2 separate regions of the Homo sapiens genome follow, and region 1 is linked to region 2. The links come from fine-mapping of genetic effects on gene expression. A gene starts in region 2. The other region holds a variant in brackets. All regions are shown on one strand. Distances are between the middles of the regions.

Region 1 (5,380 bases), 550 kb after region 2:
CTCTTGCTGGCCAACTGAGATGCTGCAAGAATGTACAGTGCCTTCTACATGGGCAGTGAAAGTCTAAGTCACGCCCAACTTGCTTGTTGTTTTGAGGATATTTTATTACATGCCAGTCCTTGGAAACTGTTGATCCAGTTTTACCTTGCACATTGTAATCACAGATGTGCACCTCTAGGCTGTGAGCCGCTTAAGAATGTGTCTGGCCCTTCATGTGGCCCGTGGTTCATGTTGGGTAGATTAGCAGATGAAAGACTTAGGAAAACAAAAATTGGAATTCTTATCATTTGATCTCAGCCAGCGTCTCAAACTCAGAGGCCCTCGGGGGTCCAGGAATGATCTGAAAAAAAAAAAAAAAAAAAAAAAAAAAAAAAAAAGCAGGACAGATGTGAGCGTGCTCACCTGTATTACATAAGTGAGGCCTGGGGAGAGGGCTAATTTGATCACACACTCTGTCTAAAGGCATTCAGGCTCAAAAAAAGTATAACCAGCTGGGCTCAGTGGCTCACACCTGTAATCTCAGCACTCTGGGAGGCCGAGGTGGGTGGATCACCTGAGGTCAGGAGTTTGAGACTAGCCTGGCCAACGTGGTGAAACCGCATGTCTACTAAAAATACAAAAATTAGCTGGGCGTGGTGGCACACACCTGTAATCCCAGCTACTCGGGAAGCTGAGGCAGGAGAATCGCTTGAACCTGGGAGGTGGAGGTTGCAGTGAGCTGAGATTGTGCCACTGCACTCCAGCGTGGGTGACAGGGCAAGACTCTGTCTCAAAAAAGAGAAAAAAGTGTAACCTCTGAGCATGCCAAAGAGAACTGATAGAGTCAAATCCAGTGCACCAGGCATCAGTTTGCAACCTCTGACTAGTAAAGTATCATAGTTATGGCAGACAAAATATTGGCCACCCTTCCACAAGATGTCCACATCCTCATCCCCAGATCTATGAATATGTAACGTCCCAGGGCAAAGGAGACTTTGCAACTGGAATTCAGTTAAAAATCTTAAGATAAAGATTAAATGAACTAACATATGTACAGTGCTTGGAACCATACCCTTACATTATAGGCATTAAATCAGCCTTAGCTTATTAAACTAGTATTTATGATTTGCAGAGAAAAGAGCATAGGCCTAGCAGGATCTGATACCTTGTCTGAGGTAAATAGGTTCAGAGCAGAGCCTGGACTAGAACCCAAACCTCCTAGCTCCTGAGCTACTTAGTGCTTTGTCCTTACAATGCCACCATATCATTTTCCTCCCAAATCTCATTTTCAAGGTCAAAACAACTAACTATAGCACAGGCCCTTCTGGCGGGCTCAGCTGCATGTTATAGCTATGATTAGTCTTGATGTTCTCAGTCGCTTTCCAGAGAAATGAAACACAAACAGAGGAACTCATTTGAAATTATGAGTGTTTGACTATAAAGCAGCCTAGTTAATAACAGAATTTTCTCTGATCAGAGTCTAGTCACTCAGTTTTGCCCCCTCCAAATATGACCACCCATAAAAAAAAGGGGAGGCCACCACAGAGCCAGTTGTCATGTTCACTAATGAGATCAATGGGATGGCACCGTCAAAGCTGATGAGGGAACAATGTAGTCTGCAGACACTTCGCATAAGACTCCAAAACACTGGCCTGATCTCCAAATGTAGGCGCCACCCACATTTACAAGGCTTTCTCAAAACATTCTGCCCCCAAAACTTAGCTTGACTTAAAGCCTGGGTATTACCAAACCATTCCATAAAAGTGGCTGCGCATCTCTTATAAAAGCAGCAAGTATTTTTAGGGAAAATAAACTGGCAGGTGAGAAAGAGCTGTTAAGATCTTTCAACGTGGAGTTGGTAAGCTGCATTCCAGACCTCTGACACCGGCTCACTCAGTTGCATAATCATCGCTTTCCTCCTGCAGCGTGAGAATGCTATTTTAGAAAGAATTCAAAGACTACTGCATCCAAATTTAGACCCCCTAATATTGTGAATTTCCAAATACACAGCTGGCCCTTGTCAATGGGGATGAAAAATGTCTTAATGGGATTGCAAAGAGAAAAAACAAACTTTGACTGGGAGCAGTGGCTCATGCCTGTAATCCCAGCACTTTGGGAGGCTGAAGCAGGTGGATCACCTAAGGTCAGGAGTTCAAGACCAGCCTGGCCAACATGGTGAAACCCTGTCTCTACTGAAAATACAAAAAACTAGCACGGGGCATGGTGGCACGCACCTGTAATCCCAGCTACTCAGGAGGCTGAGGCAGGAGAATCGCTTGAACCCGAGAGGCAGAGGTTGCAGTGAGCTGAGATCGCACCACTGCACTCCAGCCTGGGCAAAAAAAGCTAAACTCTGTCTCAAAAAAAGAAAAAAACAAACTTTTTTTCACTCTACTCTCACACTTAACACACTTCTGTGACCCCACACATTTCTGTGTGAGGCAGCTCCCCACACACCAAGCAATTCTCCAGCAGACATGAACTGGACATCCTGTAATTCAATTTGATTCTGACCCTTTCTACTGGGACAGTGTCAGATCACACAGGTTAAGGACTCAGTCCCACAGAACTGCCCCCACTTCAGATGCCAATACCAAGTCATAGGTTGTCACCTATATTATGACCCACTAGCTGTAAACTGGGGTTCTCACAACTCCCTCTTTGTGTTCAAATAATTTGCTAAGACAGCTCACAGAACTCAGGGAAACACTTACTTTACCAGTTTCTTACAGAGGTTACAGATGAACAGCCAGATGAAGAGATGGACAGGGCAAGGTATTGGGGGAGAGAGGCAGAGCTTCTGTGCACTCTCTGGGTGCCACCCTCCCAACAGTGCCCCCCAGCCCCATGGTCAGCAACCTGGAAGCTCATCTAATCTTGTGGTTTAAGAGTTTCCATAGAACTTCACCTCCAGCCCCCCACCCTCCTGCTTCCCAGCTGAAAGCTCCAGGCCTCTAACTATGTGTTCTTTCTGGTGGCCAGCCCCATCCTAAGTCACCTAATTAGCACAAACTCTGGTGTAATCCAAAGGGACTCATTCCAAGTAACAAAATACACTCCTGACACCCCAGAAATTCCAGGGGTTTTAGGTGCTCTGTGATAGGAACTGGGTCAAAGATAAATATGTTTTATATTATACCACAGGGATATTTTGAAAAGGAATAATAAATATGAAAATGTTCTTATACTCTTAAAAACACTTTGGAATGCAATTTCCAACAGTTTCAGGGTGCTATAGGCTTTATAAGCAGGTATATGACCAAAAATCCTTTCTCTGACATTGTATTAGGCCATTCTTGCATTACTATAAAGGAATACCTGAGACTGTGTAATTTATAAATAAAAGAGGTTTAATTGGCTCATGGTTCTGCAGGC[T/C]ATACAGGCAGCATGGCCCTGGCATTTGCTTGACTTCTAGGGAGGCCTCAGGAAACTTCCAATCATGGAGGAAGGTGAAGGAGAAGAAGGCACATCACATGGCAAAAGCAGGAGCAAGAGAGAGAGAGAGAGTGAGCAGGGAGTTGCCACATGCTTTTTTTTTTTCTTTTTTTTTTTTTGAGACAGTCTCACTTTGTCACCCAGGCTGGAGTGCAGTGGCGCAATGTCGGCTCACTGCAACCTCCACCTCCCAGGTTCAAGCGATTCTCCTGCCTCAGCCTCCCAAGTAGCTAGGATTACAGGCATGTGCCACCATGCCCGGCTAATTTTTGTATTTTTAATAGAGACGGGGTTTCGCCACAAAGTTTTAAATGACCAGATCTTGCAAGAACTCACTGTCAAGAAGCTAGGACCAAGCCATGAGGGCTCCCCATCCAAGCACCTTGCACCAGGCCTCCCCCCGAGCAATGGGGATTACCATTCAACATGAGATTTGGGCAGCGACAAATATCCAAACTATATGAGACATTGAAGCCCATTCCCTATATAGGATGTGTGGTGGTGACACGGGAATGTCACAGAAGCAATTGATTCTGGCCCAGCACAATAAACAAAAACACAAATGACAACAAGCTTTGAATTAAAAATATAGTCCTTTCTGGGAGATTGATTCCAGGACTCCCTTGGATACCAAAATCCAAGGAAGCTCAAGTCCCTTGTATAAAATGGCGTAGTATTTGCAAAAAACTATGTGTATCCTCCCATATCCTTTAAATCATCTCTAAATTACTTATATCTAATACAAGATAAATGCTATATCAATAATTTTAGACTATTGTTTTTTGTTTGTTTTTTTTTTTAATATTTTCCGTCAGCAGTTGGTAGAACCGAAGAATGTGGAACTCATGGACACAGAGGACCAACTGTAGTTAGGTTTGGAGACTTCATTGACTTGATATTTTCACTCTAGGATCTCTCTTTAGATTTCAAGATGTGAACATCTTGCCGACTATAGACACCAGTTTCTAATACCCAAGGAGGGACTGCAACTTCCTCAACTAGGAGAGCATCATTTCTACCCCTTAGATCCCAATAGAGGAGTCTGAGAAGCCTAAAATTTCTTCTACAATGATTCAGTTTCTCACACACCTCATCCCAATGGGTGAAGTGGAATGCCGGATAATTGCAGGTTGTTAAATAATTACCAAAAGCTTCAAAGGTACAGATGTCTCTGTTCCTGCTCAGGCTCCTGAGTCCGTGTCAGTCATTCCTGGGACCTAATGCAGGCATTCTCCCCTCAGATGCCATGCCCGTTCCCTGGCTACTTCTGTCACTACGTGCCATCCACTGCCTGTCCCGCCTCCACCCATTGCGTCATTGCAGGCTCATGCCCTGGCTATGATGTTTCATGTACGGTGGCTAAATTTCACGCCTGGCCACAGAAGTATCATTTCTGTGCCTTTGCCACTCATGTCTTCTAAGCCTCCGAAATAAGAGGAGCAGGACCAGAAGAAGAGCAGCCATTGTTCTCTGCAGACAGACACATTCTCTCACATGTCCCCGGGGCCACAGACCTCTTTATGTTCTAACTGGGTCTGCACAGAAGAGGCAGGAGACAGGCTTTAGCCTCAAGGGAGGGAGAGAGAGGCAAGAGGCCACAGTCCCCAAGTTAGGAGGCCACAAGGAAAGAAAAGGACTTCTGTGAAGAAAAGAGTCCCGTCTGAGTTGCAGTCCACTTGCCTGGGGCCACTGGAGGAGATGGGGCTGGGGAGGGGCCGCTGCAGGGAGGAGGGCGGGGGTCAGCGGCTGTGACATGACGCACGTGCCTCTCCTGGGCTTGAAATTGAGGAACTGAGGAGGCGGTGGTGGCGAGAGTCAGTCTTTCAGAGCACAGGATGGAACAAGAACTCCAGCCACTGACTGTCTCATGTATCTGCAAGGGCCGAGGAAATTAATGACCCAAGGAGGCTATGATATGGTCCAAAAACTTTTCCTGGATTTTTTCCGTAGGCGGCTGAGCCAGAGG
Region 2 (5,380 bases):
ACCCAGGCTGGTTCCAATGGAAGTCAACAGCATAATGTAAAAAGAGCAAGTTACCTACTTACAAATCATGTGATCTCTCCTGGAATGTTTGGGTCTTTTGCCATCTAACACAATAAATAAGCACACCCCCAAAATAAATACAAGCTTATATCTTTACTTGCCTCTAGATTCCATCATGAAGCATACCTCTGTTTTGAATTAATTGAATACATCTGCTTGTGTATAGAATACTCACATATGTATCCTCTTCCAACCAAACTAAAAACAAAAAAGTATGTATCTCTCTACCATCTCACATATTTTTAATAATTCTAGATTATTTGTTTCAACCTTACAGTTCTACACTTTCATATTTTAATGCCATCAATGTAAAACATATGACTTGATTTTGGAATTTTTAAAATAATATTTTATTTCTAGGTCATAGAGATATTTTAACACTGAATTAAGTTTTGCAGAGCTGAAATCTTGAGAATGTTTTGGGTTGGATTGTTCAGTGCCGAATACGTGTTAGCTTGAATACTTGATGTAACCTTGCCTTCCTCTCTGATTATTTCTCAGAACAATAGACCATTATAAGTGTTGTTTTGGAGCAGTTTAAAGTTACAAAACAGAATTGAGCTAATCAGATTTTGACATTGGCTTTTGAACATTACTATGCTTTACCATATTTAAAAATAATTTTTGAACACACACACACACACCTATATGTAATCTATAGCTATATTCCCCAGAGAGTGAGATCATTTTTTGAAAATCTATTACAGAAGTTGGTCATATGATGCTACAGAACACAGTGATAATTATTTAGTAAAAGTAAGTCCCTGTTTGCAAATGAATAATCATCCCCTTCCCAAATACATTTCTTTCTTTGTTTCTTTCTTTTTTTTTTTTGAGATAGAGTCTTGCTCTGTCACCCAGGCTGGAGTGCAATGGCATGATCTCAGCTCACTGCAACCTCCACCTCCCAGGTTCAAGCGATTCTCCTGTTCAGCCTCCCAAGTAGCTGGAATTACAGGTACCCAACACCATGCCTGGCTAATTTTTTATATTTTTAGTAGAGATGGGGTTTCACCATGTTGGCCAGGCTGGTCTTGAACTCCTAACCTCAGGTGATCCACCCACCTTGACTTCCCATAGTGCTGGGATTACAGACATGAGCCTCTGTGCCCGGCCCCAAATACATTTCTTTAAGTTGAAATTTTCCCTCCTGAGTTTTCTTAAATTACGACCCTTTCATATTATTTGTTCACTTTGTAAAGTATTTTAAATTTCTCTTTCTTGGTCAACTCTCCAGAAATGACTGACTTCCAAATCCACCACCTACCCCCTGGGAATCAACTCTATTTTTCACATTTCCAGTTTAGCATCTCTTTCTTCAATCACACATTCATTTGCACTCACCTAAAGGTTTGGTCAGCAGCATAGACTTATACTCTCTCTCTCTCTCTTTCTCTCATCTATGAGTCATTACAATTTCAGTAGAATTACAATAACGAGTTCAGAACCTGTCGCCCACACCTCACAGTAAGTAAAAGGAACCAGAAGACAGCTTTCTCCTCTTATAAATGTCAAGTGTTCAGCATGTCTCCAGTGGGTGCTGAATAGAAAAGTAACCTTAAAGAAGTCAGTCCTTGGGTTGGAGCAAAGCTTTCAGAATTCAGAGTCCATAGTTGACTTTCCTACAAGGGCATATGATTGGTAGTTTCAGCTTCCTTTTTCATGAGGCTTAACTGTCTGCAGCACCGGCTTGGTGTCTGATCTGTTCTGATCGGGTGGGAGAGGGAGACCCCACAAAACAAACAGCAGAGGATTTTCAGGTTTGTTTCAAGGGCAGCCAGCCGAGCTGTGTATAGGGAGTGGGGGGACAGGGGTGGTGTTGATGGTCTTCCTTCCGAGGCTTATCAAATGTAAATGCTCTTTTCTTAACAAGCTGACCCACTGTACACCACACCATACTAATGAGCAATTCTGCTTGGTCAACAAAGGGTGCAAGAGGTTGTGGAAAACCCACAGTAGGGCTTGCATTTGGCTATCACTATGCCCTGCATGAAGATCTCAAAGTACTGTGCCTAAAAGTCATTACTGAGGTTTGGTAGGAAGAATATTAAACCAGAATAACTTGAGATACTAGCCAAAGTTTATTTTTGTTGTTGGTATTATTTTGTTACATTCAGACAGAGAGAAATGCATTTAGGCAGACTGGCATGATCTGCGCTGGATATTTGACCAGGCAATCAGAAGCAAGGAAAGGAAGAAAGCCAGGCAAGAGGGAAGGGGTGACATCAAACGTGCCCTCTGTATTTCGCTCCAGAAAACAGCTCACAATTATGACTACCTGCCTTGTTTTGCAGCTCAGCATAAAAGTGGTGTTGCACCAAACCCTACTGGAGCAGCCTTCATGATTAGAAAGTACTCCACACCTTGGAGAGCTGAGGAGACATGAGAATAATTTTAAATGCAAATTAAATTGAGGGGGTAGCAGAGAAGAACACATAAAAGACAGTAAAACAAAACCTTTCAATTTTCTTAAATTAGCAGTCTAATGTGTTCTAAAGAGCAGCTCCACTCAGATCTCTTCTTAAGGGTTGCATTTCATCACAGTATAAATGGGCAAATCCATCACTTCCCTCTGCTCAGTGCTCTTGAAGCGAGATTGAAGGGAAAATTAGAAGCTGTTCATTTGTGCTTGCGGGCTCAGAAGCGTCGCACTGCTTTGTTTTGTACTCTACCGTGTCCTGTTGAAAGGGGTCAACAAGTGCCGGTGAGTATCCGCTAACTTCCAGACTCTTCCTTTCAAATATCTTTTTGGCTAATTTTCCTTTGCCGGGGATGGGGGTTGTGGGGGGAGTGGGGATCTCCCACAAAATCTATGCTATAATATGTCTTTCAGAATCTGGGAAATTTCAGACAGCTTTTTAAGCTTCTTCCAGTGACTGATTTGCAGAAGGGAAGAGTTATTTTCAGCCTAGATGCCGGTGGCTGTTCTGTGTATTAATTATAACAGGGGAATGTCTAACGTATGTTAAGCTAAAATGGCCTTTCCCTAAACTCCCCCATTCCCTGCCACTCTTAGGCCAGCATTAGGGTAATAACTGGTGCCCCCACAAAAATTTCTAGACAACTTTTCTATATATTAAATTTTTAATCATTTCATATTCTATTCTTTTGTAGCTGCAAATCAAACTAAGATTTGGGATTATGAAAATAAACAATGAAGACATAAATCTGTTTTGTTTTTTTTTTAATGACTATGGCACTTCTCTGCCTAAGAGATAGGGGGCTGGGGAATAGCCCTGCATGATGTATGCATGTGGATTTGATGATTTTCTGCCAAAGTTTTACACGGGAAACTGGTAATTTTCTCCCTTCGCAGGGGAGGGTGCAGAGGCTGAGGCTGGCGTCACCTTCCGTTGCTAAGGTAACGTGCTCTGGCCATTTTATCTGATAAAGGAAGTCCAGTGGACTGTATGCATTATTCATCACTGTTCTAATCAAACAATCAAAATCGTTTACTTTCACCGGGAATATTTAGCAAGATCAAAGACACTCTGGCTGGAACGGCTCTTGTTTTACCGCTGACAGATAGCCTTTGATTTTTATTTTTTGCAGTAAGTATATTTGCTATTGGGGTACCTTTGGGTATTTTTAAAAGTTTTGTCTTACCGGACTTGGTTTCTTAAATTAAAATACATACTGTTAGAAAGAGAAACCAATTGGATTAGACTTCCAAGCTTGGTTTTAATGACTTTGTCTTGTTAATTCTTTCCAAAAAAATATTCTGCAGAAATAGAGATAATTCATTTGTGTGAGTATCAGGGAAAGGCTACATAGGCTTGAAAAAAGAACCCAACAGGCTGAATGTTTTCTGGGGAAGTATATTAGCTTTGTGACAGGCTAGTGTATGATAATATAGGGATCACTGTAATGCTGCAATCATTCTTGCTGCTCTACAAACCACAATTGTTTCTCAAAAATCAGCCCCTGCCAGGCACAGGCAGGTGACGATCCTCTAGCACTTTATAAAATGTGCTGAAGGGAATCGCCGGAAAGGAAGGAATTCAAAGCATTTGTACAGCAAATATGTCAGTGTGTGTCATAAACGCACGGCATCTATGAGTGGAGGCTCGGATTCCCAGGCAATTTTCCCTGCTCCAGGGGAATCCGAAAGTCCCAGGATGAGCTGAGGATCAACACTCACAACGGCTGACACTTAATGACGCTATTTATCAAATAGACCTTTTGAAAACTGATAGCATGTGAATTTAACAGTATATGTTCCAGAGAATATAAAGCAAGGAAAGGCTGGTATGTTATCTCTCTTTAGATCAGATCATCTGTTTTTCCTGAGTAGAATATATTACTTTTAATGAATGTTGGCTAAATGCGGCATTTTCTCACACGGTAGGAAAGCTATGCTGGGGGGTGGCTTTAGAATTGCAAATGTCAATCAAGTAGTAGAATATTATAATGGGATATTCTTATTCAAACATTTTAAAGTACATCTATATATACACTTTATACTTGACGTCTAAAATATTGTGGATTTTTTTTTCCTCTTTATAGGTGTTCCAGTGTTTTCTCTCAAAACTCTGTGTTTGGAACATCAAGGATGGATTATCCCAAAATGGATTATTTTCTGGATGTAGAGTCTGCTCACAGACTCTTGGATGTTGAGTCAGCTCAAAGATTCTTCTACAGTCAAGGAGCTCAAGGTAATAAAATAAGAAAAAGAAATTCCTCTTATTTGCACGTCGGTTTTATATGAACAGCCATGTAGGCTGTAGCTGTTAAAGCCTTGCTCTGAAAGTTTAATAACCGGTATTTCTAAGTTGATAACCTCTACCAAACTGCTGCTGGAATTGAGGCAGGTATATAATAGAATAAATAAATCCACACTTCTTGGATGTGGTTAAAAAAATGCCCAACTTTTGGTGTAAGTGCCCCTCAGAAAGCTATGTTAGAAATGATTTCCTACCACCTGTGTCCAACACTTATGTCCAAAAAGAATCAAGAATGCTCTTCCCCTTGGAGAATTTCCAGTTTGCAGCCACAGCTCTTGAAATCTTAGGGCATCATGACCCAGTGGACTGGAATCCAGCAGGATTAGGGGCTCTTGAGAGAAGCGCTGAGCTTCTCTATAGCTGCCTTCTCTATTTTAGCTGAATTCAGTTACCGCCTCAGATAATTACTAGTGTACATTCAGGGAGCAAGCCTCTTGGGAAGTGTGGTTGATGTGTCCGTTTTTATTACATGTTTCAAGATGGTCAGTTAGGTTCCAGTTTTCTTGCCCTTCTGTTGGGGTATTTAGAATGTTTTTCCACCACATTAAAGAAGAAGCTGGAGTGTTATATGGGATCTCGTGACTAGGAGGAGATTT

Evidence for each region. PIP is the estimated chance that this variant, and not a neighbour inherited with it, causes the effect.
Region 1: its variant is fine-mapped to the expression of PHACTR1 in whole blood (TOPMed, PIP above 0.99).

What each region holds. Positions count from the first base shown.
Region 1 is chr6:13,267,496-13,272,875 of GRCh38, forward strand. PHACTR1 (phosphatase and actin regulator 1) reads left to right here. Exons shown (of 15, transcript NM_030948.6): 11 at 5,365-5,380. It overlaps TBC1D7-LOC100130357 (TBC1D7-LOC100130357 readthrough), which reads right to left. Exons shown (of 9, transcript NM_001318809.2): 9 at 1-340. Among named protein-coding and RNA genes, the nearest start is that of TBC1D7, 58 kb to the right of the region's middle. RefSeq lists an enhancer at 4,985-5,084. The variant T/C (reference allele first, on the strand shown) is at 3,355.
Region 2 is chr6:12,714,133-12,719,512 of GRCh38, forward strand. It overlaps PHACTR1 (phosphatase and actin regulator 1), which reads left to right and starts at 2,635. Exons shown (of 15, transcript NM_030948.6): 1 at 2,635-2,764; 2 at 3,377-3,611; 3 at 4,567-4,715. The coding sequence starts at 4,613. The region is part of intron 1 of LOC107984015 (a long non-coding RNA gene); the gene reads right to left.